Linked DNA regions of Homo sapiens: region 1 is linked to region 2. Evidence: fine-mapped expression QTL. A gene starts in region 2. The other region holds a variant in brackets. All regions are shown on one strand. Distances are from middle to middle.

Region 1 (16,074 bases), 800 kb after region 2:
CGGGCATCCCTGAATCATCTATCGGAACGTTGTTGTTAAAGTAAATGAGCAACTCCAGTCCCCGCATCATGGTCTGTCTGTACCAGAAAAGGTAGTCGTGTCCTGAAATTGGTTTACATCTCAGAGTCACTTCTTGTCCCATCTCTGTCACCTCGTGCCGGGGTGACTGGATAACTCCAGCATCTGTGTGCTCTATGAAGGAAGACAGAATTGGGCGTCAGAATAAGGAAAATATATGAGATCATCCATGCAGAAGCCCAGCCTGATGATGGTAAATGTTCTGAAGACTCACTTGCTACCAGGATGCAAAGGGACACACAGCAGAGGGTCCAGGAGCCCATGGCAGAGTGAGAGCAGATGTGGAATATTCCAGACCAGGCCCTCTGTGAACATGAGCAAAGAAATGAATTTTGTGACATTTTATCCCCACAGAATGCATCTGTCAGTGACATCACTGAATGGGCCACCACCCCCAACTTTAAGAGGAGGCTGCATCTCTGGGAGATGAATCAGGCAGGAATTAACTCAACTATAGCAGATCTGAGATACAAATGCACACATGCAGAGGCTCCCTTAAGATTTATTTTGATATTATCAATTCACGGTAGCTTCTCCATAACATGCCTTACCTAGGAGCTTGCCAACTATATATATCTCCTCAAATTGCAGGTAATTAAAGATGAACTCATTGTCTTATTGCAAGCCAGCTTCTCTGCAAACTCTCCTCTTCCTCTCACTGGTGGCTTGGTGTTTCTAGTCCTCTATGTGTACCTAAATTATCCATCAGCGAGTTAGGAGTTAGGCATCTGAGAAGATGCATGTCAACTGCATTGTTAGGGATAGAGGAACTGAGCTGATGCCCTGAGAACTGATTATATTTGAAGCTCTTCTCTGCAGTAGAAAAAACCTGGGTTTATTTATCCTTGAACCATATTGAATTCCCAAAGCCCGTGGAATGGAACTTCTCTCCATTCTCTATTCCCACAATAAAACAGAGGATAAGATTGTCTTATTTTGAAGATTTGCAGCTACAATGTTCTAGTCTTGAATTATATCTTATTACTACCCCTAGAAAAGAAAAGTTCAATGTTTTTTCATCATTAACACCTGACCTTTCCTCCGGCCCCCTGCCAACCCCTTAATCCCACTTCTCCAAACCTACTTCCTCTCAGAGGTTCTGGAAAGCTGAGAGAAATGTTTGTTTTTTGAGTTGATCAATTAACTTACTTGCCATAAAAGGGCATATTTTTGCTCTTGGCACAGAGGCATGCTTCTGAGTCCCATGCAGTTGAAAGCACTTGCCAATGTTAAAGGGCATTAGTTTGCAGACTAGCTTGTGTTTCTGGAGGGGCCTATTTCCCTTTGGGCTCTATCCTTTTGCAGGGTCTGTTGGACCCAGGATACAAAACTGTGGTCATAATTCTGTTTTAAAAAATTTAATTACTTACCACTCCCTGTAACCAGGTACCAAGTGTGGCAGGCAGCATGACAACCTCCCAAAGATGTCCATGTCTAATTCCCAGAAACTGGGAATGTGTTAAATTATGTGGCAAGGGGAGAAAGGAATGTTCCAAATGGAATGAAGGTTGCTAGTCAGCTGGCCTTAATATAGGGAGTGTATCCTGGATTTTCCAGGTGGGCCCAATGTAATCACAAGTGTCCTAAAATGTGGAAGAGGGGGGACGAAGAGTGAGTGTCAGAGTGATGCAGAGTGAGCAAAGGCTCAGCCAGTCCTTGTTGACTTTGAAGATCGAATGGGGCCATGAGCCAAGGAACACTGGTGGCCTCTAGAAGTTGAAAAGGAGAGAAAAACAGTTCTCCCCGAGAGCCTCAGGATGGAATGCAGCCCTGCCAACACCTGGATTTTATCCCGGTTTTGGACTTCTGACCTGCAGAACTGTAAGATAATTAGTTTTTGTTGTAAACCACCAAGTTAGTAGTAATTTGTGTCAACAGAGATTGAATACCTTCTAGTAGCCATGGGATTGATGGGTAAGAGGCAGAAGCCAGATACAAGATACAGGTAGAGACAGATGCATGATCACATGGAAGGAATTTAAAATCAGGCTAAAGGAAGCCTATAATGCAGCTGGGCTTTAGAGAAGTAGGAAGGAAAATGATCTGGAAGCAGCAGGGAGGAATTCTGCACTATTTTCATCTTGAAAGTCAGGACCCACTAATCAAAAAAAAAAAAAGGAAAGAAAAATAGGAAAATGACACAGTGGAATTGGGCTTATGGCAGAGCTCCAAAAAACCTCAATGGCCTTGGGCACTCAAAATATAGGGGTCTTTTGCCTCAGTTGTCAATGATACCATGATAGGTATTTAGAAGGAATCAGCATGTAAATATGAATATCACACAGAAATTATAACCACTCAGAATGGATTGCAGGTATTGTATAGAAACTTCTCATATAAATAAGAAGGAAAATGTAAATTTGTGTGTTAAGGACATATAATCAGAAAGGAAACAGGGCAACAGAAGACTGGACATGCCTGTCTGCTTTTAGATACCCCAGTGTGGGTCCTTACCAGGAGGCGTCATCAGTGCTCTGTGAGTGTGCACAGCCTTTGGCCAGCACCCGGCTCATCTTACGCAGAACAGAGACAAATGGATCCTTAGATTCCAGGCCAGGTAGCTTACATCTAGTGTACTAACCTGCTTGCTCTAGCCACATTTGAGACACTCTTTAGGAGTAGTGAAAAATCCTGAAGTAATGTAAAGTTGAAATTGGCATTATAAAGGAACGTCCACAATCATAGTAAAGAAGAACTTTCTTTTACAATCTAGAAAACGTGTGAGGGAAATTTCTGTTTGCAGCTTAGAGTTAGGAGAGAATGAAGAGGGCCTCACAGTTCAGAAAATGCAGCCCTTCTCAAGAGCCCCCACCATTCTCATGGGATGGCAAATGCAGGAGGGCAGGGAAATCTCCAGTGTCAGTAGCCAAGGTTTATCTTACTCCTATGTGTTTTGAGCAGAGACAATTTTTAAGGAATCCTCAAAACCCATTTTGTAATCCTCAAACCAACATAAGGTTTCCTATGTTGATCCCTTCTCATTTTCTGTCTTTTTCATACCCCCAAACCACTTTTTTCTCATAGGGAGGGAGGAACAGCAGAGACTTTGCCCAGGACTGCTGGGAGGTAGAAGGAGAAGGGGAAACACCGGGTTTTCTGCACAGGAAAGGGGTGATTCTGCAGCGCTGTGGCTAAACTGCTGGCACAGAAGTACACAGCTGAGTCCCTGGGTTCTGAGGGCTGGATCTTCAGAGTGGAGAATGATGCATTAGGCATCTTAGCTGAGAATCGATCCTCGGGCATCCCTGAATCATCTATCGGAACGTTGTTGTTAAAGTAAATGAGCAACTCCAGTCCCCGCATCATGGTCTGTCTGTACCAGAAAAGGGAGTTGTGGCCTGAAATTGGTTTACATCTCAGAGTCACTTCTTGTCCCATCTCTGTCACCTCATGGCGGGGTGACTGGATAACTCCAGCATCTGTATGCTCTATGAAAGAAGACAGAATTGGGCGTCAGAATAAGGAAAATATATGAGATCATCCATGCAGAAGCCCAGCCTGATGATGGCAAATATTCTGAAGACTCACTCGCTACCAGGATGCAAAGGGACACACAGCAGAAGGTCCAGGAGTCCATGGCAGAGTGAGAGCAGATGTGGAATATTCTAGACCAGGCCCTCTGTGAGCATGAGCAAAGAAATGAATTTTGTGACATTTTATCCCCACAGAATGCATCTGTCAGTGACATCACTGAATGGGCCACCACCCCCAACTTCTTTAAGAGGAGGCTGCATCTCTGGGAGATGAATCAGGCAGGAATTAACTCAACTATAATTGGTGTGAAATAGAGATGCACACTTGCAGAGGCTCCCTGGATATTTGTTTTGATATTATCAATTCACGGTAGCTTCTCCATAACATGCCTTACATAGGAGCCTGCCAACTATATCCATCTGCACCTCAAATGGCAAGTATTTAAAGATGAACTCATTGTCTTATTTCAAGCCAGCTTCTCTGCAAACTCTCCTCTTCCTCTCACTGGTAGCTTGGTGCTTCTAGTCCTTTATATGTACTTAAAGTATCCCTCAGTGAGTTAGGAGTTAGACATCTGAGAAGACGCATGTCAACTGCATTGTTAGGGATACAAGAGCTGAGCTGATGACCTGAAAACTGATTATATTTGAAGCTCTTCTCTGCAGTGAAAAACCTGGGTGTGTTTATCCTTGAACCATATTAAATTCCCAAAGCCCATGGAATGTAACCTCTCTCACATTCTCTAGTCCCACAATAAAACAGAAAGGGGATAATATTGTCTTATTCTTGAAGATTTGCAGCTAAAATGTTCTAGTCTTGAATTAAATCTTATTACTACCCCTAGAAAAGTTCAATGTTTTTTCATCATTAACACCTGGCTTTTTCCCCTGTAACCCCACTTCTCCAAACCTACTTCGTCTCAGAGATTATGGAAAGCTGAGAGAAAGATCTTTTTTTTGGGTTGGTTGGTTAAGTTACTTGCCAACAAAAGAGAAGGGCACATTTTTGCTGTTGGCACAGAGGCATGCTTCTGAGTCCCCTGCAGTCAAAAGCACTTCCCAAAGTAAAAGGGCATTAGTTTGCAGACTAGCTTGTGTTACTGGAGGGGCTATTTCCATGTGGGCTCTATCCTTTTGCAGGGTCTGTTGGATCCAGGATATAAAACTATGGCCATAATTCTGCCTTCAAAAAGTTAATTGCTTACTACTTCGTGTAACCAGGTAGCAAGTGTGGCAGGCAGCGTGACGACCTCTCAAAGATGTACATGTCTAATTCCCAGAAACTGGGAATGTGTTAAATTATGTGGCAAGGGGAGAAACGAATGTTCCAAATGGAATGAAGGTTGCTAATCAGCTGGCCTTAATATGGGGAGCGTGTCCTGGATTTTCCAGATGGGCCCAATGTAATCACAAGGGTCCTAAAATGTGGAAGAGGGAGGATGAAGAGTGAGTGTCAGAGTGATGCAGAGTGAGCAAAGGCTCACCCAGTCCTTGTTGGCTTTGAAGATTGAATGGGGCCATGAGCCAAGGAACACTGGTGGCCTCTAGAAGCTGAATAGGAGAGAAAAATAGTTCTCCCTGAGAGCCTCGGGAAGGAATGTAGCCCTGCCAATACCTGGATTTTAGCCTGGTTTTGGACTTCTAACCTCCAGAACTGTAAGATAATAAATTTTTATTGTTGTAAGCCACCAAATTAGTGGTAATTTTTGTCAATAGAAATTTAATACCTTCTAGTAGCCATGGGACTGATGGGTGAGAGGCAGAAGCCGGGTACAAAATACAGGTACAGACAGATGCATGATCACATGGAAGGAATTTAAAATCAGGCCAAGGGAAGCCTATTCAAAAACATATTCTTATGTCTGCCCAGGCTTCATCTTCTTCCAGGAGACACACTGGACTATGCCTCATACGTGGATATGGTCGTGGCATCACTGTGATTTTCATCTCCCTGGCGACAGGGTCCCTCTGCTGTGGTCCTGGGTAGCACCTCCCTTTCTTGCTGTTCTACTCTCACAGAGCAGGTAGGGTTGGCCTGGGCTGGTTTGGGGCCAGGCTCTCCAAGGCTCTTTTGACACAAGAACTGCTTCTCTGGTTTTCCAAGCTCAGAACATGGGCCCTGCACCACCTCAGCTCCTTGTGCCCCTACATCTTAAGCGAGCTCAGAGGTATATGCACTGCAAAGTACACCTGTCACTCAGCCCCACTCAAAGCACAATTTAAAGCAAAACCCACCTCTACAATGGAGGAAGCGTCGGTTACTAATTCCTTTATTCCCAGCCATCATTCAAGACATCTGCAAACCAACTCCCTGAATTTAGGTCCAACCTCGGGGTTATTCTTAACCATCTTCCAGGGAGCAATCTCAGCTCCTCCCCATAGACTCTGGATGACATCGAAGCCACAGTGCCTCCTAGTGGCCAGTAGGCCAGAACAGCACAAATGTGCTCTCTTTTGCCAGGACACAGGGACTTGAGCTTTATTTCACTGAGTACAAGGGATATAGGATATTATGATTAGTTGGTGTTAAAAGGCCAACAAATAATATTAGTGCTATGGGGTAGGACAGAAACACCCCAGACATTGACAATGCAGTCAGAAAGGTGGAAACATAATGTCAGTTTTAATACTGATAAGCAGCAGGTCTCATTGTGAAACTCGATGGGCTGGCTAACATGATGCTGAAACAGAATTTAACCCATTCCCTATCCCCTCCAAACTGCAGGCCACCCTGCATGGAAGAGAGAGTTCCTCACTGATCTTAGCACATGTTGAAAATAATCTACTTTTCTCTAGGGAACCAGGAGGAAAACGGGAAAATAAGGAGAGACTAAACTAAAATGAAGAGAGGAAATAGTATAACTGATTTCCCTTCTGTAGAGAAGATTTGGCAAGGAATAGGAAGATTAAAACAGGATTATTACTTTCGGGGTGCCCCACAAAATGGGGTGTGTTGTCCCAGGAGATTGGCTTTAAACGGGGTAAAACAATAGCCACATATCAGTTACTCCCTCTAATTTTGACCATTGCCCCAGGAAATACTCATAAAACAGCACAAATCCACCCCCAGAACTCAGTAATTAAATTAATTTGAAGCCCAATCTGTACTATTTGACCAGATCTCAGCATTCTCTTGATTGTCTTTCCCATCTTGCCATATGGTCCAATGGAACACAGAGGTTATGTGATAGAAATAAATAACAGTAGAAGAATACTCTAAAAACAACATGCCCCAAACAAAGATATGTCTCAATTGGATTATGAATGGTCTTGATAAGTTTTTTTAAAGTATTTGATATCAGAGTTTAACATCTCTATACCATTTAAGTTGAATATTAGACAAATCACAAAGAATCTAACATTAAAATACAAGGAAAATTAGAATTCCAGGTAAAGTTATTTTCACCTTAATCCCAATAATTAAGGATAATGGCACTCACTCTTTCTGTTGTTATCTACATAGTTGGAAAAAAAATATCAAAAACAACATTAAAAATTTTAGTTAAAGTCCTAAAAAAATAATAATAATTTGGCTGGAATGTTGGTGAGGGCAAGAGCTCCGGGAGGTGAGCACAGCAGTCCATTTGCCCTAGCGGGCATTTGCAGATCCTGACTCAGCACTCAGGAAGCTGACTCACAGGCCACGGGGGTAAAGGCAAAGCCCAGAACATACCGAACGTGTCATTGCCAAATTCCACTAGTAACAATAAGCCAGAGACAAACCTGTTCTCCAGATGCTCCAGGACACCTCAAGCCTTAAACTGTGATTCAGGGAGCCTGACTGTTTATATCTACATGCACTTTCAGAAGCACAGAAAAATGATCTCTGCAGAAAAATATCCATCCTACCCCCAAAATTATTTCTACAACTATAGTGTTTGGCAAAGTGTCAAACATCATCAGATTGGTAAGGAGAAATACAAATGCCATGAAAACTCAAGCACCATAACTGAGAAGCAGCACAAAAAGAAAATCACAAAAATATCCTATGAAGATCTTAGAGGTGAAAATGATCAGACAGACTCTGAAACAACTGTGTGTCCTATATTCAAATAATAAAAAGTGATCTCAGAAAATGTTATGAGGGAGTTATTAACTATAACTAACATAGCAGATTGGGAAAAGAAAAAAATAGAAATTTTGACAAGGAGATGGTGAGTGAGTGGTCATTTTAATCCATCACATCAGTGAGGTTTTATTACAGGAATAAAGGACAGGGAGATGTGCAATGAACAAATGGAAATAAAGCCTGACTTGCCATCAGGTATTAGATTGGATAAGGAGGGGAGGGAAGTCAGGAGGGGCAAATGGACAGTGACAGTGCTTTCAGACAATTTCCAGTATGCTGCTTTTTAAGTAATTCTAACCAATACTTCAGAAAGATTTCTAGTATTAGAGAGTTTAGGCAGAAGTAGAGTAATGAATATGGAGCTAGACACACAGAGTGTATATTATCAGAGAGGGCAATTGATTGCTTCAGAAGTTCTTACAAGGAATATTTCAATCCACTAAGGAACTTTTAATATACAAGGCAGACACGTAGAAATGTCCTCTGAACTGACTGGTCCAGGTCTAGATATATTCTTGGGCTGGGATGATTACATAGAAGAGTTAGAGAGTTCAGGAGAAGTAGAATTCATGTGGAGCTAAGATTTGCACCTGGTTGCCGGGGTATCCATTTGTGTGCATTTCTTTGAACTGGAAAAAGGGCTGAATAACATACCTGAAATTATAATCACTATCATTAACAACATCATTATTAGCATACTTTACCAAAAATAAAACAGAAGGAAAAAGATTTCCAAACACATACTGTGTGTTGAGACTTTGCTAGACAGCCGGGGTGTCACTAAGGGTAACAAGTCATTCACATGCTGACAACTACATAAGGGGAGCCTGCTGTTTGCTGCTTGGTATAATCACTATCTGTATTATTAAGTTTATTGTACATGTTTCATGATCACATACTTTTATGGGAGATAAACCATCACTACCCCTGAGGACTCAATCTCTGATAAGTCACTTTAGGTTTCTTGAGTTGTCCCCAAGAAGTGTTTCAAATCCCTGAGACACATTTTCAAGCAACAATTATAGCGCTCATGTTGTAAGAAATAGTTCATTTCCTCCCACTATATGAATCCTAGCTATATCTGAAAACTCACTTCTTTCCTGGGAGGATGAGGAATAAGGAAAGGCTGCTGTGAGCTGAGTAGAGAGGAGAGAGTCCTGCGGTTTTCTGCACAGGAGGGAAGTGTCTCTGCTACACTGTGTCTAAGCTGCTGGCACAGAGATACACGGCCGAGTCCCCAAGCTCTGCAGGCTGGATCTTGAGAGTGGAGTCTACTCCTTTGAGCCTCTCTGCAGAAAATCGATCCTTAGGCAACTGTGAATCGTCTACTGCTTCCTCATTCTCATATCGAATCAGAAGCTCCGGGCCCTGTCCCAAGTTCTGCAGGTACCAGTAAAGGGTATTGTGGCCAGAAATAGGATTGCACCAAAAAGCCACAGGCTGTTTTTTCTCTATAATCTTATATCTGGGAGACTGAACCACTCCAGCTTCTATGAGTTCTGTGGGGGAAAAAGAATTTTAAAATAGAAGGAAATGACTAGAATAATCACTGGGAGATTATGTGAGGATCATGGTGTTCCTAGGACTCACCTTCCACCAGGAGA[CA/A]GAAGGCCACCCAGCAGAGGAGCCTGGTACCCATGGCAGGGTCAGGGCAGGATGGAAGCTTTGCCAGATCAGGGTCACTGTGAGCAGGAGCAGAGGAAGTGGGATGTTGCTGTCCTTACAGAGAAGTTCCTACAGTGACATCATTGTCTCCACAAATGCTTAAGTTCTTAGAAAACAGTTGTTGTAAACTAAAACAGAGCTAAAAGTTTGTTTAATGTATTCATAGACTGGAAGTTCATCCAAGCGTCCTCACTCACATATTCAGGGCTTGGGGGATTAGATCTGTCACTACATCTCTAGGCCTATCCTGTGCTAGATGTTTCTACGTGGAAGTCTCAAAGGCAACTCAAAATAGATATATCAATTAGTGACCTCTTGATTTTATGTGTAATTTTCCTTCTCTTTGGGTATTTCTTTTCTACCAGGTCCTCCATGCTCCCAGTCCTCTAGGGTAATTGACACAGCTTTATCCTAGAACTGCATTGAACTAGCTGACATACTCTAACCTAAAGGGGTAAAATAATTCCCTGAGCACAAAGTTGGGAGGTTTCATTTTATCTGAAGGCCAATGACTAGTTCCCTTTTTGCTGTTATCAATCTTCATTATGTATTATGTATCAAGCCTTCACTATGATTCTGCCTGTAGTCTCTGGTCACCAATGAATTGAAAGTAAGTTCTGATATCTTAACCCAAATGGATGAAGAACACTCTAATTCCTGAAAATATCAGGGTGAATATCTAACAATAAATGCAAAATTGAGCAGGACTTCTGGGATCTAAAACACTTACACCTCTATCATATTTTACAATTGAATTGCAGTGTTAGTATCCAGCAATTTTTAAAAAATTATGCAACATTAGTTAAGACACACTTCTCCTTATCTGAGTGGTAGAGTGGGAAGGCTTGAGGGATTGGAGAAGTCCTGAGAATCAATATGAATGAACTAACCAATGACATGTGTGTTCAGAGAAAGGGAATAGTACAACTCAGCCTAAAGAAATCCAAGTTCCTAAAACCTAGGGGACACATGTCAAGGTTATCAGGTGAAGACCTGTGAGTGTAGAATTATCAGAACCATCTCTTTTCCATATAAATTGTCTATCATTGTGGTAGAAAAGCTGCTAGTCGGAGCCTGCCTTATATTGACACCAATTAATAATTTCATGGTGGAAAGTGTCTTCACATCACAGTGTCACTACCTCTTCCATCCGTGTGACCAGAGCTTAGGGCCCTGGATGACAACAGCATTGAGAGAGTGGAGGCTGGGTGGCTGGAGACAGGACCTATCAAGCTGCATGTGAAATACTTGAAATTGGGGCATCCTATTTCTAGGAAAGACATTCCCCAGGTATTCTCATGCCTCCCCTGCTTCCTGAGCACCAAAACAAATGAACAAAAAACACCCATGATTGTGTCAGGGCCCAAAGGGCCGTCTCATTGCTCAGGGAAGGAAATGCCAGAGTTCTGGAAAATCTGGTTCTTGTTAAGAATATTTGTGGTGTTACTGCAATTTGAGATATCTGGAAACATCTACAGTTGTCCACTCCCATCTTCTACATTCCCCTTACATTCTCCTGTCCATCGTCCAGGACACACTAGAATAGGTTAGGTGCTAAGGTTTCTCTGATGTTCTCCCAAGGAGGCACTTGTTCCTCTGCATGGGTCTGTGAGCATTCAGGTTGGCTCCTGGCTCTCCTCCATCTACCCCTCAAGTGGGCTCAGAAGATTCTCCACTCAATGGTTTGCTACAGTTCAGATTTCACTGCCGAACAGAACCCACTGGCATCAGTGGAGAAAGATGAGTTTCCATTGACCACTCAAAACACCTGCAAACTAGATACTGAATGCTAGGATGAAGCCACACTTTTCCTTTAAACTCAACTTCTCAGGCAATACTTAGCCCTGTTTCAAAAACATTTGGACGCCATCAAACCTCAGTGCCTCCTGATGGCCAATGGTTCAGAGCCACTGGGCTTAGGCCCTCCAGCCATGGCTCAGGGAGAGTGGTGGGACTTCTAAACAATGGAAATTAGATCAGGGCTACTATCAGACAGTGTTTGTGGGGGACTGAAGGGAATTCATTCCAGCTCCATGTGATCCTTCTGTCCTGCTAGAGACTCCTCCCCACAGACAGTGTTTCAGTCCTGCTAGAGCCCCCTCCCTGTTACACAAACACATATTATCCAACCACAATTTAGGACAAGCACTACCACTCCTCTGCTTACATTCAGGCAATTCCCCAACATCTGTGAGTTCTTGACCAACCTGTAGGGAACTCAGAATCTCCTGTTTCAGTTAAAACAGTCCTGTGTATTTACTAAACAGCTTCTTGACATGCATTGTTAGCTAAGTTTTGTGCTCATCTCAGAGATATCAGCTATTTTGTCCTCAGACTATAAATTCTCTTATCTTTTGGGGGGACTTTTAAAAATCATAGCCTGTCCCTATAGAAAAAGTACACTATAGGGCTAAAAGAAACCTTATCTTGTGTGTTTGTTTTATGGTAATTATAGAATATTTCAAAGATATTGAAAATGAATATAATAAATAGCCACCACAAAACTGAAATCATGCCAACATTTCAAGATCTTAAGATTTTTTTCTTCTAATTTTGTTTAAAAAACTGACACTTTTGGAAGAGCTGAATCATACAACAAAGAGAATATTAAAATGTATTTCAATTATTAACATCTTTTGACATTTGCTTTATCTCTTTTTGTGTATTTTACCCTCAATTTCTGAAATAAAACACTTTATTCTTAACGATTCAGTATGTCTCTCCTAAAAAGAGGCCATTATCTTAGAAAACCACAAATGCCTTTATTACACTCAAAAACTTAATATTCATATAACATTATTTTCTCATATATGCTTCACATTCCCCTTTCTCCAGTTGTACCAATGTGTCCTTTGGTTTTAATTTTTTTTCTACAGGACATTATCAAAGATTATGCATTTCTTTTGGTTGTCAGGTCTTTTTAGCTACTTTTAAACTAGACATCTCTTTGGCCCACTTATATTTTCCAACTTTCATGGTCTTGATTTTTGTAAGAGTCCATGTCAGCTGACTGGTAAAATGACCCCCAATCAGAATTTCCACATTATCAGAGGTTAAATATTTTGGCAAATACCATGCCATAGTTGATGTGTGTTTCCCATTGCATCCGATCAATTACAAGAACATATAATGCTGTCTTTACACATTTTTGGCGATACTAAATTTAACATCACAGACATCAGATCTCTCCATTGCAAAGATATCATTTATATTTTATAGTTAATAAGCAATTAGTGGAGTGATACTTTGACACAATATAGATATCTTGGTCTCCAATAACCTTTCAGATGTTGGTTTTGACATCAACTGATGGTCTCTGTCTGTAACTACATTAATGGCTACATTGATTTTCTAATGAAATTTAGTAACTAGCATTATTCTGTAACGAAGACATTCTTACCTACATCTTTTTATTGTCATTATAGCCTTATAGATTTTTAAAATTTGTTATAATTCAGTGTCCTCATTATTATGCTCTAATGTTTAGATACTCGTGTTTGGCTACTGGGAGCCCCATGAAACTGGTTCTGTGGCTTTTTTCTATGTTTTCTGGGTCATGAAACTTCCTTGATTTCTGCCAAAAGATGTTTTTGACTTTCCCTGCTCTGGATCTAGAAGAAGCCATTTCTGCTTTGTTTCTTTTAGAAACATTTAGAAATTAAATAACATGCAATAATTCTGCCCATTACTACTGGGAACACAAGTACAAAGAAATAAAGCAATTGTCCATCGACTTCATATTGCTTCTTACATATTGTATGGTTAGAGTTAGGAAATACATAATTTTTAAATAATAAGTTCATATTGATACCTCCAATTCAAATAAACACCGCAGATTTCTTCCTTGTCTTTCCCTATTTCTTATTGTATCTCTCTTCCCTTTGTAAGAACTCTGTTTCCCAGTAATGTCAATGAATTTACTTATTCTCTGTTGTACAGTCTATTAAAAATGTTTCAGAATATGCACTAAAAACACTAACAGCGACAAATCTCCCAAGTGAAGTTCAACCCCAACCTCATTTAGCCTTACAATCATAAAACTACTAAAATCTAAAGACAAAGAAAAACTAAAAAACAACTGGAAAAGAAAAGCCATTGCCTCCTAAGAAGATATACAAATGATCAATAATATATGAAAAGATGCTTAATATCTAATGTTTAGGTCTTCTATCTAAGTTCAGTTTATTACATGCAACATGTTGGAAAAGCTCTTTGACGTTGGCCTTGGCAATGATTTCTTCGATATCATACAAAAAGTTCAGGCTACAAAAGCAAAAATAAATGGGACTAAATCAAACTGAAAAGCTTCTGCACAGCAAATTAAACAATCAACAACATGAAAAGGCAACCTATGGATTTGGAAAAAATATTTGCAAACCATATGTCAGATAAGAGATTAATATACCAAATATATAAAGACCCCATACAACTCTTTGGCAAGAGAACATATAACCCTATTTAAACTGAGCAAAGGACCTAAACAGACATTTCTACCAAGAAGGCATAAAAATGGCCAAGATGTTCAATATCACTAAATGTTAGAAAAGTGAAAATCAAAACTGCTATGAGATAGCACCTCACACCCATTAAGATAGCTATTATTAAAAAGATAAGTTGCAAGAGTGTGGAGAAAAAGGAACTTTTATACACTGTTGGTGGAAAAGTAGATTGATGCACTCATTAAGAAAATTAGTGTAGATGTTCCTAAAGAAATTAAAAATAGAATTATATGACCCAGCAATCTCTTTTCTTGGTATATACACAAAGAAAATGAAATCCCACCTTTTGGAGACATCTGCACTCCCATGTTCATTGCAGCATTATTTACAATAGCCAAGATATGGAAACAACCTAAGTGTCTACTGATGGACAAATGGATGAAGAAACTGTGGCATACATATACAATGGAGTATTATTTGATCCTAAAAAAAAAATGAGATCTTGCCATTTACCACAACAAACATAGATGAACCTGGAGGACATTAGGCTAAGTGAAATAAGCCAGACACAGAGAAATAGTGTATATTATTTATATGTGAAATTTGTAAAAACTCAAATATACAGAGAGAATGAAATAGTGGTTAATGGGAGGATGGCAGGGGGAGGGAATAGGAAATGGGAATATTTAGGCCAAATGATACAAGATAGCAGATAGGCAGGATGAAGAAGTCTAAAGATCTAATGTGCCACATGAAAACTATAGTTCATATATTCAGAATTTTTTCCAAATGAGTAAATTATATCTGTTATTGCCACAGGGAGTAAATGGGTAACTATGTGAGATGATGGCTATATTAATTTGTTTCACTATAGTAACCATTTTCCTATAGGTGTGTATCTCATCATGTCATGTTATGTACCTGAAGTATACATAATACAATTTTCAAATTTAAAGTAAAAGTTCAAAAAAAGATGCTTAACATCATTAATTATTAGGAACATGTAAATCAAAACCGCAATGAGGTATCACTTCGCATTTACCAGCATGGCTGTAATAATTTTTAAAAAGAAGAACAAAACAGAAATTAAGTGTTGGCAAGGCTGTGAAGAAACTGGAAGGCTTTTACACTGTTGTGGGAATATAAAATGCTGAGGCTGCTGTAAAACACTGTTGGGCAGTTGCTCAAAATGTCAAATGTAGAATTCCCATGTGACTCAGCAATTCCACCCCTAGGTATACACCCAGAATAATTGAAAGCAGGAAAGCAGACAGATACTTGTAGGCCAGTGTTTATTGCAAGATTATTTATAATAGTCAAAAGGTGGAAACAACCCACAAGTCCATCAGCTGATGATGAGATAAACAAAATGTGGTCTATACACACGATGAAGTATTATTCAGCTATATAAAGGAGTAAAATTCTGACACATGCTACAATATGGATGAATCTTGAAAGCATTAGGCTAAGTGAAAGAAGACAGACACAAAGGGAGATATATTTTATAATTTCCCATCAATTAACTATCTAGAGTTGGTAAATTCATATAAACAAACGGTAGATTAGAGGCTACCAGAAGCTGAGAAGCATGGGAAAGATGGAGTTATTGCTTAATGGGTGTAGTTTCTCTTTGAGATCATGAAAAACATTTGGAAACAGCAGTGATGGTTCTACAACCTTGTGAATGTACGTGATTCCACTTAATTGTATATTTTAAAATTGTTAAGGTGAAAAATTGTATGTTTTATGTACATATAAAACATTTAAAAATTAACATTTAAAAACTGTGGTAATATGTATTTTATATTTGTATATAAAACTGTGGTAATGTATATACTATATATTATATATATATATGTAAAACCATGGTTATACATATATGTATAACCACAGTTTTTAAGTGTTAATTTTTAAATATCAATTAAAACCTTCAAAATGGCTAAAATAAATATTGACAACTCAATTCTCCATGATGGACCCTAAAGACAATGAAAGGAACTCAAGTAATTTAAACACACAGTCATCTCTTAGTATCCTGAGGGGATTGGTTCCAGGAAACCCTGCTGATATCCTAATCCAAGGGTGCCCACCTTCCTTACCGTCAGCCTTTGGTATCCTTGGGTTCCAAATCAGCTGATATAGAGGGTCAACTATATTGCTAATTTGTTTCAAAATGTTGCTTGTCAGAATATATCTCAGAAAGGGTTTTCTGATATAATTATTGTATTAGTCTGTTTTCACACTGCTATGAAGAAATACCAGGGACTGGGTAATTTAATTTATAAAGGAAAGAGGTTTATTTGACTTACAGTTCCACATGGCTGAGAAGGCCTCAGGAAACTTACAATCA
Region 2 (16,074 bases):
TTTCTCTGGACTTGATTGGCTCACTTAAATAAAGACATAGCCAACTGGAGCTACATCTACCCACTATGTATTAAACACATTATTTAGGAACAGGATCAGTTGCAGGAAAGGATAAAAGGTTTCAGGTAGTTAGACTTTGTAGGTGAAACAGATCTCCGTCCAAACAAGTGTTTGTAAGAGGAATCCAAGCTGAAGTTGCAGGATATCCCAAAAGCTAGCAAAGGAAAAGAACTGGGGAACTCAGAAGGAAAATATATCCAGGAATCTGAGAGGTAGGCTGTCAGCTGTGCCTGGTGATAGAGAAGTCTGACAGGTAGTAATAGAGCCTCAACCATCAGGCTGTGGTTCAGAGGCAGAAGCTGGGGAGGATGGCTTGTAAGCACAAGGCAGGAGCTCTCTCCTAGAGGAATGTGCATACAGGTGAGGGCTAAAGGGTCCCAGCAGGGGAGACAGGGAGGCTTCAGAGGTGTGATATGACATCTGTTGCCCCTCTCCCCTGAGTTCATAAATACTAGACAGGCAGGCATCGGAGACAATCAGGACAAGCCTTCCAGTTCCTGGTTCTCATTGGTTCTCCATGGAGGAAGGAATATAAAACTGGCAGATAGGCCTACTGAGGCTGGAACAAACAACTGCCTTGTATTCTTTATTTGATCTTTCCCTCTCTTTGTCAGTGCTCTGGGATTGGCTTGACCTTTAAAAATCCCATCTGGTTCTTCTCTCTGGGATTTATGAACTCCATTTTTTACTACCCACCTGGCCTCTGACTCATGGTTGCCCAGACTCTATGCCCTGCCTCCTTGGTCCTGGCATCCTGCCTGGTCGCTGCTGCTTGTGGCCTGGTCATGGTGAGGACACCCTGAGGTGCTGTGTGTGCTTGGGACCTGACCAGGAAGCAGCAGGAAAGCGCTGACATTCTTCCAGGCTCTCTGGCAGATATGCAGGCGCGATCTGCTGGCTTGGCCTTTCTTATCAGAATGTTTGGATGGAACCCCTAAATCTGCAGTAGGGGTTGCAGGCTTTCCCACAAATGTGCTTCCCAAAGAAAACACAGGGCAAATGCATCCCCTTGGTCATCTGAAGCATAGGCTCTATGACAGTCACCAAAGAAGCAGTTGTCTGGGCATTCTCTTCTGCTGAATCCTACAGAACGTGATTTGGGGACGTTGACCTGCCCATGCAGGAGGGCTTTGGCTCATGGAGGTGTGCGCCTGGGGACTACACTAAGGAGAATGTGCCTGCCACGTTTGCCCATGCCGATAAGCTTTCTTTCTTTCTTTCTTTTTGAGATGGAGTCTTGCTCTGTTACCCAGGCTAGAGTATAGTGGCGTGATATTGGCTCACTGCAACCTCCACCTCCCGGGTTCAAGCGATTCTCCTGCCTCAGCCTCCTGAGTAGCTGGGATTACAGGTGTACACCACCATGCTCGGATAATTTTTGTATTTTTAGTAGAGACGGAGTTTCACCATATTGGTCAGGCTGGTCTCAAACTCCTGACCTCATGATCTGCCCGCCTTGGTCTCCCAGAGTACTGAAATTACAGGTGTGGGCCACCGTGCCCAGAGATAAGCTTTCTTTTCTAACTAAAAGTGGGAGTGAGCTCACCTTAGATCCCCAATATTTTACAAGATTTCAAACCTTGTCTAAAAGTCAAATGAGCATGTCCTGTGCTGGTCTCTTTCATAGTGTCCAACAGATCAGAGATTGGTAATGTGAGGGCTTTTTGTCCCCACCACCAACGCTGAAACCACAGAACTTCTGCCATGGACCCTCTCATCCTCTATAACTAACTGGCTGAGCCATCCTTCCTCAGCAAACTTGCTGTGCCCCAGCACAATGGCCAGGACCCTCATCTGTTGATTACTCTGGGAAACCAGCTGGGGATGGCAGGTAGGGGTCGGGGGAGAACTATATCGACCACTAGGACAGATTCTATGGCCACTTCCTACTATGTGGGAATACAACTTACACACTACAAACATCTGCACTCATCCATGACTTGCCTCTGAGTCTGCCCCTGTGTATGAATGGGGTCCCTTGTCAGCAACCTAATGCCCCTAAACCCCACTCTTGGTCCTCCTGTTGACTGAATATTTAGGAAATCATTCTCATTTTAAAGAAAACAGACCTCAGGCTAGGTGCATTGGCTCACACCTGTAATCCCAGTACTTTGGGAGGCCAAGGCGGGCAGATCGCCTGAGGTCAGGAGTTCGACACCAGCCTGGTCAACATGGTGAAACCCCATCTGTACTAAAAATACAAAAATTAGCCAGTCATGGTGGCGGGTGCCTGTAGTCCCAGCTACTCTAGAGACTAAGGCAGTAGAATTGCTTGAACTTGGGAGGTGGAGGTTGTAGTGAGCCGAGATCTCACCACTGCACTCCAGCCTGGGTGATAGAGTGAGACTCTGTCTCAAAAAAAAAAAAAAAAGAATACAGACCTTTGTTACTGACCCTCGTGATTTCCACCTAGTCCCCAAGACTATTCTTACCAATGTTTTCCAGCATCAGCACTCTCACTTCTGGCCTTTAGCAAATAGGGTATTTGAGAACCACTAGGAGTGCCCCAAAGCTGACTGATCTTCAGGGCTGCCTGAAGATAGATACTCTAACACCATACAAGGACATTGATAAGTAGGGACTAAGACACTTATCATCAGTATTTTATGAAAGCACCAAAGACTTATTGCTACAAATCACTCTGAAGAAAGATCATTGCTTTCCCATTTCAAAATTTAGAAATGTAGATAGATGTATTCCTCTCTTCAGTTTATGGTCCCACCTTAATTAAAAAAAGACAAGCGTGAAAGAACGTGTATCCATTCAAATGTCCTGAGTTGAGTAACTTTAGTTTTTTTAAGTGAACAAATAAAGCACTTTCTACAACATCCAGAATAGATTTTCCCTCTGAGGAGCTGAGTTTAAATGCTGGCTTTTTTGGCCAGGTGCGATGGCTCACACCTGTAATTCAAGGACTTTGGGATCCTGTGGCAGGAAGATTGCTTGAGGCCAGGAGTTCAAGATCAGCCTGGGCAATATAGTGAGACCCCCATCTACAAAAATAAAAATTAAAAAATTAGTAAGCCAGGCGTGGTGGCTCACGCCTGTAATCCTAACCTTTTGGGAGACCAAGGCGGGTGGATCTCTTGAGGCCAGGAGTTCTAGACCAGCCTGGACAACATGGTGAAATCCCACCTCTACTAAAATAGGCACATACAAAAAATTAGCCGAGGGTTGGGGCACATGTCTGTAGTTCCATCTGCTTGGGAGGCAGAGGCAGGAGGATCACTTGAGCCCAGGAGCTCGAGGCTGCAGTGAGCTTTGATCATGCCATTGCTCTCCGGCTGGGTAAGCGTGAGACCCTGTCTCAAAAACAAAACAAAACAAAATGCCAAACAAAAAAGTGCTAGCTTTTTCTCTTTCCAACTGGGAAATCTTAGGGAAAAGGAAGTTAATTGAATTATCAGCCCCAGTTCTCTCAACTGCAATGCAAGAAGAATATCTTTCTTAGAGGTTTGGAAGAATAGACTGAAAACTCTATTCTTTAAATCAATTGTATATTGATATTTGCACTTTAAAGTGAGTTTTATTTTTTTCTCTATCTCTCTCATTCTGACTCTCAATAAATGATCTTGCCTCCTTCTTGTCAGAGAAAGTAGATGCCGTCAGATGGGAATCCCTCATTCTCCTGACACCAAACATGCAGCCCACTGGCATCTGCCCCGTCTTCCCTGCTGCTGGAAGAAGAGCTGGGCTCCTCCTGTACAGTCTCATCCCCCTCCCTGAGCTCTGCTCCCATCCCTCCAGGTGGTTTTAGGAATTTACATTCAATATTAATTAATCTTCCCCTCTCTTGTACTTTGAGCTTCCCTTTCTCAATTGAATCTTTTCATAGACCTTTAACTTTGATCTAATATATCCCAATAAAATAAAAGGAACACTTGATTAAGTTGTGTTTTGGAGCCATCTCTCCATTTGTGGGGATCAGTGTGAAGCTTTGGTACCTTCTTTCAATCCTGCAGGTACCACCGAAGTACCTACAATTATTCCTGGGGACCCCAGCTTCAAAATGGGATAAGTGTCTTGCCTGATCATTTTATTTGGGGGTTAAGCCCCTGCAGAATTAGAGAACCCCCCCGCCAAGTATGTATTTAAAGTCCAGAAGTTCTTAAACTTTTTTTGTGCCCTGGACCTCTTTGGCAAGGAGACTGGGACAATGGCCTTAACTAGTGAGAAGTAGCAGAATCCTTGTATAAGAAGACCTATAGGGAGCAGGAAGGAAGCTGGCCAGGAATATGCCTAGAATATTTTACTTTTTTTGTGTGGGTAGTGGGGAGGGACTGGAAATACCTTCAAGACAGAATGCAAGATGGGACTGAGTCTCCAAGACCTGGAATCCCTCATGTTAAATCATTTGGATAAATGCAGCCTTATATAGTTGTGTTAAGGAGACCAAGGGGAGAGGTTTGCATCCAAGTTGGAACCACAGTAAGAGATACGTAGTCATATATAAATATATGTATTACTCAGGGAGAGCCATAAGGAGACAGAAGTTTCAGGTGGGAAGGCAAGAGCATAATGGCCACGTGGTCTGTTCCTCCTTACCTGGCCAGTCCCCTGTCAGCGTTTTCTCTGCTCAAACAATAGGGGTGTGTGGGCATTGCTAGAATAATGGAAGCTGTTTGTTCTTTTTTTTTTTTTTAATCATCTCTCCATCTTCTTTCCTTTGCGACTGGACAGTATATTCCATGAAAGCAGAAACTATTTGATACTTCTTTTATATAACCAATAATAGTAGATATGAAAAAAGAAAATGCTTTCTAATTCTCTCCACTATTGAAATAGGGTATCAGACCCTGCCACGAACTACACTAAACGATTAAAATCTAAGCAGACCTGCAACTGATTATTATCTCATTCCTTCCCGCGGTTTTATAGATGTAGATTTGGCTTATTTCTTCATGCACATACACCGAAGATGGATTCTGTCACCATAATCTCATCTCCTCAATCTGCAATTCAGTTGTTAGTGTCTTCTTCTTGCACATCTTCATCTGCCACCCCATGGGATGTAGCTCTCCATTCATAATCTAAAGGTTAGAAAGTTGCATCCATAAGACTTAGCCTCCCTGTTAGGAGCCCACACCAGGGACCCCTGGCCCATTGCCTTCTCTCTCTGCAACCTCGGAGAGACCTAAAAGTGGGCGAGGTGCAGTCAGAGCCTGGATGGGCACTTGCTTCTGTGAATGCCCACCTGCCCACTCTCTCACACTTTGGGCTTTCTGGGTACACCTTAGACAAAAGGGTCTCCTTGCCCTTTCTCATGCATCTTTTCTGGACTCCACTTCTTACCTGCTGTAACCACAGTGCTCATTTAACCCTTGCAACTTAGACCTTCATCTCCTCCCCATGGGGCTTGAGGTATCTACCTGGCCCAGTCCCACTAGCCAGAGGCCAATCTTTCTCTCTCTTTGCTGCTTCGGGACCGCCTTGCTTTCATTTGTCCGAGAAGATCACGTCTCAGAAAAGTTAAACTGGATTCAAGACGATGTCTCCTAGCCAGCCTCGGGTCCTGACATTGTTGTTAGTCTACTGCGAATGAACTGTCCTCCTCATATTCTCCAATCCCCAACCAGGCCTGGAGGTCAACTATCTGCACATCCCCACACCCACCCCTGAATGTCCAGCGAGCACAGAGAAGTGGACTACACGATTCACTTGCAAAGACTTCACCTTCTGTTTGGATGGACAAAATAGCGCACTCGAAACAACAGAGCCCAAAGCTGTGTCCAATCACGTTCCTGTGTGTGTCCCAGATGCGGCCCCAGGAGGAAAACAAGTGTTTGCGGAATTTGGTGGCCAAAGGCCCTTGGGCCTGGCTTTATTCTCACCACCACCCCACTTTCTCTCAGGGCATCCCCTGACCCCGGCCCGCAAAATCCATCAACCAGAACCTCGGGGTAGGCCCTGGGTTCGTGCCTCGGCTCCTGAAACCCAAGCCGGGGTTCTCCAGGAGAGAGCCCCGGGAGCGGGGCTTGGCACGGGCGGGAGGAGGGGGGCGGCGACGGCGGCCCCAGATCCCCGAGGGAGCGCCCCGGCACGGCCGGAGCAGGGGCGGGGAGGCGCGGGGCGCAGCCAATCCCCGGGCCGCCCCCTCCCCGGCCGCGGCGAGCCGAGCCGGGGCGGGGGAGCCAGGCGGCGGCGGCGGCGGCGGCGGCGGCGGCGACGGAGCTGCCGTGGGGAGGGATGGAGAGGGGAGGGGGGAGCGGAGCCGAGCGGAGACAGCCGCGGCGCTGCAGAGCGGCTGGGGCGGCGGCGCGGCTCCCGGTGCTCCCCCCGGCGCGCGCCCCGAGTCGGTGAGGGCCCGGCTCTGCGGCCCCCGGAGCCATGGGCTGCATCGGCTCCCGGACTGTGGGTGGGTACCGCGGCCGGGCGGGGGCAGGGCTGGGCCCCCCGGGCCGCCCTCCGACCCCCTCCCCCATCCCTCTCCTCGCGCCTCCGGGCGCCCCGCTCCGCACCCGCCTTGCCCTGCTAGCTCCTTCACTTTCCTTCCGTCCGCCCGCGGTCCCTCTGTCCCTCCTTCCTGCCCGCTCTCGTCTTGCGCCTCCGGGGCTGCCATCCCGCTCGGCTCGCTTCCTTCTCCCCGTCGCCCTCCCGCAGGCGCGGTCCTCTCCATCCTCTCCATCGCCCTCCTCTCCTCTGCCTCTCGGCCCGACGCTCGGTCCCCTCATCCCTGCCCCTCCAGGCCATCCGCCTCTGCTCCGCCGTCCCCAGCGCCTCCTCGCATCCCCCACTCCGGAGCAGCCCCCCGCGAAGGACCCTCGGCCTCCGCGCCAGCCCCGAGTTTCTTTCGCACGCCCCCCACGCCACCCCCCGCCGCCGCCTCCATCTGGCTCGGGTGCTTTGCCCCATCTCTCTCTCCCTCTCCGTTGCCTTTTACTGTCGTTCCTGCCTCCTCCGATTCGCTTTGTTCACGTGCGTTTTCCCTCTGGGGCGGGGGCGGGATGAGCCCGGGTTCCACGCCCGGAGGGACAGGGCCAGGGCCGGGTGGAGGGAAGGGGCTGGGGGACGCGGGGAGGAGATGGGGGCTTCGAGGCGCTGGGAGGGGTCGGGAGCCCGCGGCCCGGGAGGGTGGGGCCGGCCCTGCCTCGGCGGCCGGGGACCCGCCTGCACCTGTCAGCGGGGGCCGGCGGGGCGGGGCCGGCTCTTTATTTACCTTTGACGCGGGGAGGGAAGAGAGGCGCCTCCTAATCCATCTTCTCCCTCCAGCTTCTGCCTGGCTACCGCCCCTGACCCCCACCCAGGCACCCACTCCACTCTCGCCGCTCAGCGAATTCATCCGGCCCTCTCCCACCCCCTCCCCCATTCTTCCCCTTTCCAACTCCCAATTTCTCCCGCCTACACCTCCCGGTGACCTCAGGCTGAGAGAATAATTCGTATTATTATTACAAACAAACTCACTCTCCAGAAGCCTGATTTCCCTGAGACCCGGTTTATTTCCATGGATACCCCCTCCTCCTCTGCTTTCACCCCTTCTCCGCGGCTCTCTCCCTCCCCGCTGCCCCCCACAGCTCTGACTCAGCTCTCCGTCTCTCACAAAGGCCACCTCCCGCTCCCCTCTCCCCCCGCACCCCGCCCTCCCCTGTCTCCCTTCTCCTCAGGCTCTTCTCCACCTGCCCCATTCCTGCTGTGTCCGGAGGGCCATCTTTCCTCTTTTCCCCCAGTCACCACCCCGCGGAGCCCCAGGGGACAGCAGGCCAACTTTGGAGGGTCCTCCCTCCTCAGTCCGGTTCACCACAAGCCCCTTCCTTTCCCCCAGCCCTGCTGATGTGCTGAATGCCTCCTCGTGCCCAGCCCCATTCAATGCTCCCCTTCCCAAAAATGGAGCCGACCCCTAAACTCACAATTGTAAAACCTCATGAGTATAAAGGGCCTGTACGGTCAGATGGTTCAGGCAGCCATCTGCTGCTTGAATAGTCCCTTTATGAAGACCCAAGCAGTTCTTCCGCAAGACTCTCCGCGGCACCATCCTGCCCTCAGTCCAGGAGTCTCCCTCCACCAGGAGCTCTGGCCCGGCTGTAACAAGGACCCTCCTTCCCCTGAGTCCTGCAGTTTCCCACTCAGCCCTCAGACCCTGTCCACCCCTCCCACCATCTTCTGTCTTCTCTCTGACTTGAATTCCTATTTTCTTAATTCCTATTTTAAAAAGTTCTCTTTTCTCCTCCTGCTCACCAGCTTCCCTCCACTTTAATCCATCACTTCTCTCCCCACAGTCAGGTGAAATGCCTCCAGCTCACCCTTGGTTTCTCTGCTCACTGTTTTTGGGAGGACACACCCAACTCCTTGCTATCCAACTCCTGCCTCGATTCCCAGGAAGTCCTCTTCCAGTCAGTCAGACTCATGGACTCTTAGGAAGGGCCCACCGGGGGAGACACATCCCTTCCACCCTAAGCATAGAGAAAAGTTCCTCATAGAGCAGCTCTGCCCTTATCTGTAGACTTGTAATAGAGAAAAAGCCCAGCTCCCATACAGAAACCCTCCAAGAGTCCTCAGGACGGAATAATTGGTTTTCTGATAAAACCCAACCTCTGACCCCTCCACATAAACAACAACAAATAAGGCCATACATCACTTTTTCTGAGTGCACTATTCTGGGTTGAGCTAAAACTGAATATTTGGGCTCAGCATTACTACTTGTCTCCCCTAGAATTTGGAGAGTGCAGGGATATAAGAGGAAATGGGCAGCTGGGGTAAGGAAGGGGTGTGAAGGGCTGGCCCCAGGGTGTCGCCTCGGCTGCACAGGGAGGTGAGGGCCGGCGGCTAACCTTCTGGCCCCCTCAGGGAATGAGGTGATTGCAGTGGATTGGAAGGGCCTGAAGGATGTCGATCAAATCAACATGGACAGCACCAGCTCACTGCACGGGAGCAGCCTCCATCGGCCATCGACTGAGGTGAGACCTCACTCAGCCACCCCAAGTCTCTGGCTGCCTGCACTTCCTCAATTCCAAGGCAACAACCCAAACACTCCTTCAGACTGACACTTCTACAGAACATTTCTCACAACACATGCCAAGCAGTCCACATGGAGAACCCAGTTAGCGGCATCAACCTCAGGAAAGCCCTCCCCACATCCCGCACTCCTGGAAGGCCCTCTGAGGAAGGGGGCTTCCTTGCATTCCTGCGAGTGACTGGGATGCCCATTCCCTTTCCTCTCTCCTCACAGCAAACTCGAACTGATTTCTCCTGGGACGGCATCAACGTGAGTGCAGCTGCCCCCAGACCTCCCCATCCTCCCGAACTCCTCCTCCTCATCTTCTCCCTTGCACCTTCCAACCAGCACGGTATTCCCTGGCTCCAATAGGCACTGTGAGCACTCACGTTCTCAACCTGTGCCCCAGTTTTCCAGAGCACTGGGGATATATCCCTCCTTGGGACTCTTGGGTATAGTAGCTTTTCTTATCATCTGCCCTAGCTCGAATGCTTTTTCCTGGAAACCATGAACCTCCTCCATGTATAAAGCACGCCCGTACCTTCTTATTCCTCTGCCCTTCCTCCCACATTCCCATCCCAGCTCTCCATGGAGGACACCACTTCCATTCTTCCGAAGCTTAAGCGAAACTCTAACGCCTATGGCATTGGGGCCCTGGCCAAGTCATCATTCTCAGGTGAGACTCCTGATGTAAGAATGCCTTCAGACAAAATAATGCTGACAGACTCCTTGGCTCAGTCTCCCTGCTCCTTCGAGGTTGATGAAGACCCTCATCCCCACCCCCTGACCTATTCACCCTTCTGTCAAGCCTCCCATCCTCCAGGCCATTCCCTCCACTACCCCATCTATGGAGTCCTTAGGGGAGCCTGGCCCAGTGGGATGGAGCCTCATGGGGCTGGGGTGGGAGGAACTGGGAGGGTCTGGTTATGGGTATTGTGTGATATTCTGGAGGATGTGGGAAATGTCTGGCCCCATAGGGATCTCACGGAGCATGAAGGACCATGTGACAAAGCCCACAGCCATGGGGCAAGGCCGGGTGGCCCACATGATTGAGTGGCAGGGCTGGGGGAAGACACCAGCTGTTCAGCCACAACACAGCCATGAGTCCGTGCGCAGGGATACGGATGCCTACTCCGACCTCAGCGATGGCGAGAAGGAGGCACGTTTTCTAGCAGGTACAGGTACCCTAAAGCCTCAAGAGACACATTTGCAGGATGGCCAGGGACCGACCCTCCAACCTGATCCCCTGTGGCAGGATTAGCTCCATCCATACTTTGACCGTAGATTCACATTTCCCAAACAGCTCTAAGTATTTTGATGTGGTAATTCAAATAAGTGCCCTCAAACATATTTTTATAATCATCTCAGAAAATGCGTGTAATTAGATGGGATTTGTGGGTCCACCCATCCCAGATGCCTTCTCTCCTCATCACGGGACTATCCAAACCTGAACTCCCTCAAGTGCAGGGAAAAAAATGGGGAGACCTTGGTCTTTGAAAGAAAGAAAGGCCTTGGGGATCTCTTTTAGCCTTTGCCCTTTAGCATTTCGAGTCATGAATTTGCCTACTAGACTCATTACTTGTGACAACCACTAGAAGATTAAGGGAACTGTGTGAGAGACGGGAGGCCTACAGAAGAGGTTTAGTTCCAGGAAAGTAGTGTAGGTCTGATAACAGGCATGCAGTGTGCCTACAAGAGTGGCCAAGCTGTAGTGCAGGTCTAAATAAGATGCCTAGAAAGGGATAGGTCTGGAAGAGAAAGGAAGTATTGAGTTGGTGGTATGGGTGGGAGGAGAAATATCAGTGAACAGGGTGACAAACATGTAGGGTGGGGGGCAGGAGCAGTACCAGCTTCAACACGCTCATGGATTTGACTAGAATAGGGATCCCCAGGTCTACCCATCCCCTTTTCCTTCCAATCCCTTGAATTTCAGTTTTATATTATGGTGGACCCACAAGCCCACGATGCTCTCTTGGGGGTTCTCTGTTGATCTTGAAATCTACTCTCTAGACTGCAATTCCTAAAAACCTCCAAAGATAAATATCTGGAAATCTCGAATTTGAATCTCTTAGGATATCTCATCAGAAGACCCCTAACTCTTTCCCCTAGGAATCCTAAATCTGATTTTTTAGGAAGTCCCCTACAATTCTCCCTTCTCTGGGGACATACACAAAGGCTGTGCTGTCCAATACATTAGCCACTGGCCTCATGTGGTTATTGAGAACTTGAAATGTGGCTCTTCTGAATGGAGATGTGCTTATAAGTATAAAATACCAGCTGGATCTCAAAGGCTTCATATAAATAAAAGAATGTAAAATATCTCATTAATAACTTTTATTTTGATTATATGTTGAGATGAAAATCTTTTTATATATCGAATTAAATAAGATCTATTATTTCAATTGATTTAACCTGTTTCTTTTTAATTTTAAATGTGGCTACTGGAAAATTTAAAATGATATAAGTGGCTTGCATTATATTTCTACTGAACAGTGCTGCACTAAGATGTTTTCCTACCCCACGCACATGTCTAAGGATTCCCTGAGGTATTTTGTGGTTGTTGCATTTCTTCCCCCAGGCGTCATGGAGCAGTTTGCTATCTCTGAGGCCACACTCATGGCCTGGTCTTCCATGGATGGTGAGGACATGAGTGTGAACTCCACCCAGGAGCCATTGGGCTGCAACTACAGTGACAACTACCAGGAACTGATGGACAGTCAGGGTGAGAGATGTTCCAGAATCCAAACTCTGGAGCCTATGAGGCCTCCCCAACTATCTCAGCTGCCTCCACTCAGCTCCGTTCTTTTAAGACTTCCTTGTCCATCTCAGCTTTCCCATTGTCCTCCCTACTCACTGTGCACTCTGTGTCTTACTGCCAGTTCTCTGTGCTGTCTCTTAGCTGTCTCTTGTGCTGTCTGTGCTGTCATTCCTGCCCTTGACATTCTGTGGCCCCACTGACCTCCATGATTCTTTTTCCAGATGCCCTGGCTCAAGCACCCATGGATGGATGGCCTCACTCTTACGTGTCCCAGGGTATGTACTGTCTGGGGTCGTCAGATGCCTGGGAAGCCAGCGATCAGTCCCTCATTGCCTCTCCGGCCACAGGATCCTATCTTGGGCCTGCATTTGATGACTCACAACCCAGCTTGCATGAAATGGGACCTTCCCAACCAGCTTCAGGATACTCTGCTCTGGAGCCTCCACCTTTGCTGGGGGGAGACACTGACTGGGCTCCGGGGGTAGGCGCAGTGGACCTGGCAAGGGGCCCTGCTGAGGAGGAGAAGAGGCCATTGGCACCTGAGGAGGAAGAGGATGCGGGATGCCGGGACCTGGAGTCACTTTCCCCACGAGAAGACCCTGAGATGTCTACCGCTCTCAGCCGGAAGGTGTCTGACGTCACATCCTCAGGTGTGCAGTCCTTTGATGAGGAGGAAGGCGAGGCCAACAACTAGTTTCCTCCCCCAATGCCCTGCCTTCCACTCCCACCTGAGGGCCATGGCTGTGACCCATACCCTCCCTCCCCCCAGCAGTACAGCTGAAACTGGGCAGACAACATTGGGGAACCCAGGAGCTTCCAGTCCTCTCCTGGAAATGGAGGACCAGGATGGGATTTTATCCAGGCTTACACTCTAGAAACCCACAGGCCTGGGAACTGAGACCTGGGCAACTAGATGGCCGTGAGCTTGGTGTGGCTGTGGAGAAGGACCTGGGCTGTGGGCTTCTGGGTCTGTGCCGACAAAGCCTCCAGTGTGTGCACCCTGAGGACGGGGGCAGCGCAGCTGTGCTCAAGACTGGATCTCAGTTCTTCACGCCCCGATTTCGTCTTCCAGGAGCTGTAACTCTGCTGTCTGAATGCCTCCTTTCTCCATTTCACTCTTGCTTTTCCCAACTCTGTTTTCTCTGGCTGTGGCCCCAGCTCATCCCTACTGAGAGAACAGACCTCAGGGGCTGTTGGACATGGCTGGACAGGCGCAGGGGAGGCTGCCTGAAGGGCACGTCCATGGGGAGGGTGGAGAGGCTGCCTCAGCAGGTCATTTGGCTTCTGAGATCAGGAGTCGAGGAGGAGGTGGATGTGGCAGCTGAGATCTACAGGGGGCACGGATGTGGTTCTTTCTATCAAGGCCTGCCCGGAGACAAGAGAGTCACTGAGGAGACTAAGAACAAACACAGCCCCTTGCTCTGGGATCTTTAATATCCCATGGCTAAAAGGAAGATCCTAAGGATCTGGGAAAAGACCCAGCCAGGGCTGGCTGCTCCAGCTCTTGCTTCCCTTTCAGCTTTCTTCCATCCCTGCTCCGGGAGCCTGAGGAGGGTGTGGGGACACCCATCTTGGATACACCAACGCAGGATGCAGGTGTCGCCAACAGCAGGGGGAGCATGAGGGCTGTCTCCCCTTATTCACCCCTGTCCTCTGAAGCTGTTTACACTTTTCTCTTTGCCTTTTCTACATTTTTATAACTTCTTGGGCACTCAGGGTTGAGTGGAGTGGAGGGAGGAGTCCGGTGCTGTCACTCCCTCAGCCAGGCAGGGTTGCAGCTGAGGGCCAGGGTGGGCACTCGGCACTTTCTGCCCCTTCTTCAGCTCCTCCCAGGACTCCCAAACAGCCTCACAGCTGTCCTCCCTGCCTCCCCAGGCCTCCTACCAGAGGAAGAGAGGAAAATCAGCGGATTCTTCCTTCCAGGATGGTGTATGGTGAGGCACAAGCTTGCCCTCCCACACTTGGCATCCATGCTGGTGGGGACTGAGCAGCATATGCGCCCCAGCACTACCGTGAGAGCACAGGCAGAGGATGGGCGGAGCAAAGCAGCGGTGCTGTGGGGTTGGAGAGCACTTGGCCCTGCCACTGCCCAGGTAGCCCCTCCCCAGCCCTTGGCACAGGCAGAGTTCGGGTAGGAGAGAGAGGCCTAAGAGGCTCACTGCCCTATCTCCTTCTTTCCTCACGCCCTTCCAAGGCTCCGGCTCCCAGGCCTGTGTCCTACCCACACTCTGTCAGGAGTCCTACCACTTGCATCCTCTGCTGGAAGGGAGCACTGTTGTCCTCTCCTGGCCCTGGGCACAAACTTTGCCCTCACCCCCAGGCCCCAGAACTTATTATTTTGGAGTGAGAAGGTTGAGAGTTGGGGTGTTTCTGTCCATCTATGGTCCTGTCCCGCCATCAAGTTCATACTCTCTTACTCACACTTCTGGGATGCAAGCAGGGCAGGGGGTTCTGTGTCTTCCATGGAAGGGGGACAATGGTTATCCTGAGGTTGGTTTTTGGAGGAAACATGGGCGTAGGCAAGGTGAACCAAGGCAGGTGCAGTCACCTAACCGAATGCTGCCTGTACAGGGGAAGAGTCCTCTTGTGCTTGCTAACGTGTGCTGACTCCATGTCCCAGGACCTCATTTCCAGGAGCTCTGAGAGGTGGTCTAGCATGCCCGCCCTGGCAGCTATTCCCCACCCGTCTCCTGCTGCAGGCTCTGGGGTTTTGCATGTTCATGTGACCTTCCTTCCATGGGGTCCCTGGTTCCTCACCTTCTCCAATGTGTGCTATTCCCACATCACCTCTTCCTGTCGTCTCATCCTCTCAGTGCCCATATCATACCCCCAGACCACGGTGGACAGCTCACCTAGTGAGTGCGTTCATTCATTACAGTTCGTTTTTGCTCAGGCCCGGGGGAGTTAGGAAAGGTAGACCACAGCAGCTTTCGTTCCTCCTTCCCTTTCCCAAGGAAGCCAAATGGTCCCTGACAAAAGATGACTAAAGATCTGAAGGACTCTAGCAGGGTTCATACATGAACCTGCTTTCCCCAGGGTGCTGGCATATTGCTGCAGATGGAAGTCAGGTGGGGGTCTGTCTTCTGCAAGGAGCTCCTACTCGCTCTGAAGAGGGAGACTGAGGAGCTGGCCTGGGACCATCTTAGGACTCTTCTGGTGCTGGGGGCAGGGTGCATGGGGGTTGCTTATCGTCTATTTCAGGGGGTGGGGAGGGGCATGTGCAGGAAGAGGCTGTTTCGGGGTGGGAAAGGGTTGCTTTTCCTTTGGGGTTAAGGCTGTGCAGCACGTTTTACAGCAGTCCTGGAACAGGGCTGTTTTTATATTCTTGTGAATGAAACTGCTCTTGCTAAATGATTTTCTTTTTTTGGAGGGGGGGTGCACTTTCATTTTCAATTGACTTTATTAAATGAAAATCCAAATCTTCCACTCCTCCCCCTCCATTGTCCCCTCCCCCACCACACACCTTCCTTCTTGTCCTTGTGTTGAAGAGGGTATCTTGGGGAATGAGTTTATTATCTTCTCCACGACCTCACCTATACATCCCACACACCATCCTCCAGGTCTGGGAAATATCCATTTTTCTGGCCAGTCTTAGCATGTTTTCTTAATGTCACATTCCCACGCCAGGCCCAAGAGAGATTCTATGACATATATTATAGAGAGAATTCTATATCAATATATATAAATATTAGAGATTATGTACACAAGGGCATGGGCTCAAATGCCCACTGCCAGTCCCCCACCCAGGCTTCAGCATCTCTCTTGGCCTGGGGAAGTGGGAGGGATGTGATGCTGGAGAAGGCTACAGGCTGTGTTCAATGACACTAAACAGAATGTGGTGGCATCCTCTGACTGTGAGTGTCTTATTTGGGGGATGGAGGAGACTGGGAACAGGGGAGGCAAAGGAGGAGAATGTCGGAGCGGGGGCACAATGGTAGAATTAAGAACGGCATACGGGATGGCAGGCTGGGGAGAAAAACCTTGGGTACGGAGCAAGGGTTTGGGGATGCTCACAGCACCTGGCCTCTCTTTGTAGAGAAAGCACGCTAATGGAGTGCATAGCCAGGCTTCCTGCTGCTGATTTGGGGAGGGTGAAGATGTGACTCTCCCAAGTGCGGGGCAGCACTCAAGAGCCCTGCCATCTTGACGCTCAGCTCCTAACTCTCCACCCCTAGGAGAGGCATCTGAAGAACCAGTCTAAGAGGGGGCTGGTGTCTGAGTGACCCAGTGACCTAGCTGCTCTGAGCCCTGATTCTTGGCAGGAGAGGCCCTGGCTAGAGCAGCTCCAGGGTAGAGCTGACCTTTGGCAGGACAAGTCAATAACAAG

Evidence for each region.
Region 1: its variant is fine-mapped to the expression of FAM131B in whole blood (INTERVAL, PIP 0.97).

The regions. Positions count from the first base shown.
Region 1 is chr7:142,548,066-142,564,139 of GRCh38, reverse strand. It overlaps TRB, TRBV11-3, TRBV12-3 and TRBV12-4. Among named protein-coding and RNA genes, the nearest start is that of MIR11400, 82 kb to the right of the region's middle. The variant CA/A (reference allele first, on the strand shown) is at 9,225.
Region 2 is chr7:143,352,917-143,368,990 of GRCh38, reverse strand. FAM131B (family with sequence similarity 131 member B) reads left to right here and starts at 6,278. Exons shown (of 7, transcript NM_001031690.3): 1 at 6,278-6,415; 2 at 8,842-8,951; 3 at 9,224-9,259; 4 at 9,572-9,665; 5 at 9,967-10,164; 6 at 11,568-11,711; 7 at 11,969-15,591. The coding sequence starts at 6,388. The coding sequence ends at 12,441. It overlaps FAM131B-AS1 (FAM131B antisense RNA 1), which reads right to left and starts at 7,285. Exons shown (of 3, transcript NR_183342.1): 1 at 6,934-7,285; 2 at 5,734-5,801; 3 at 4,726-5,090.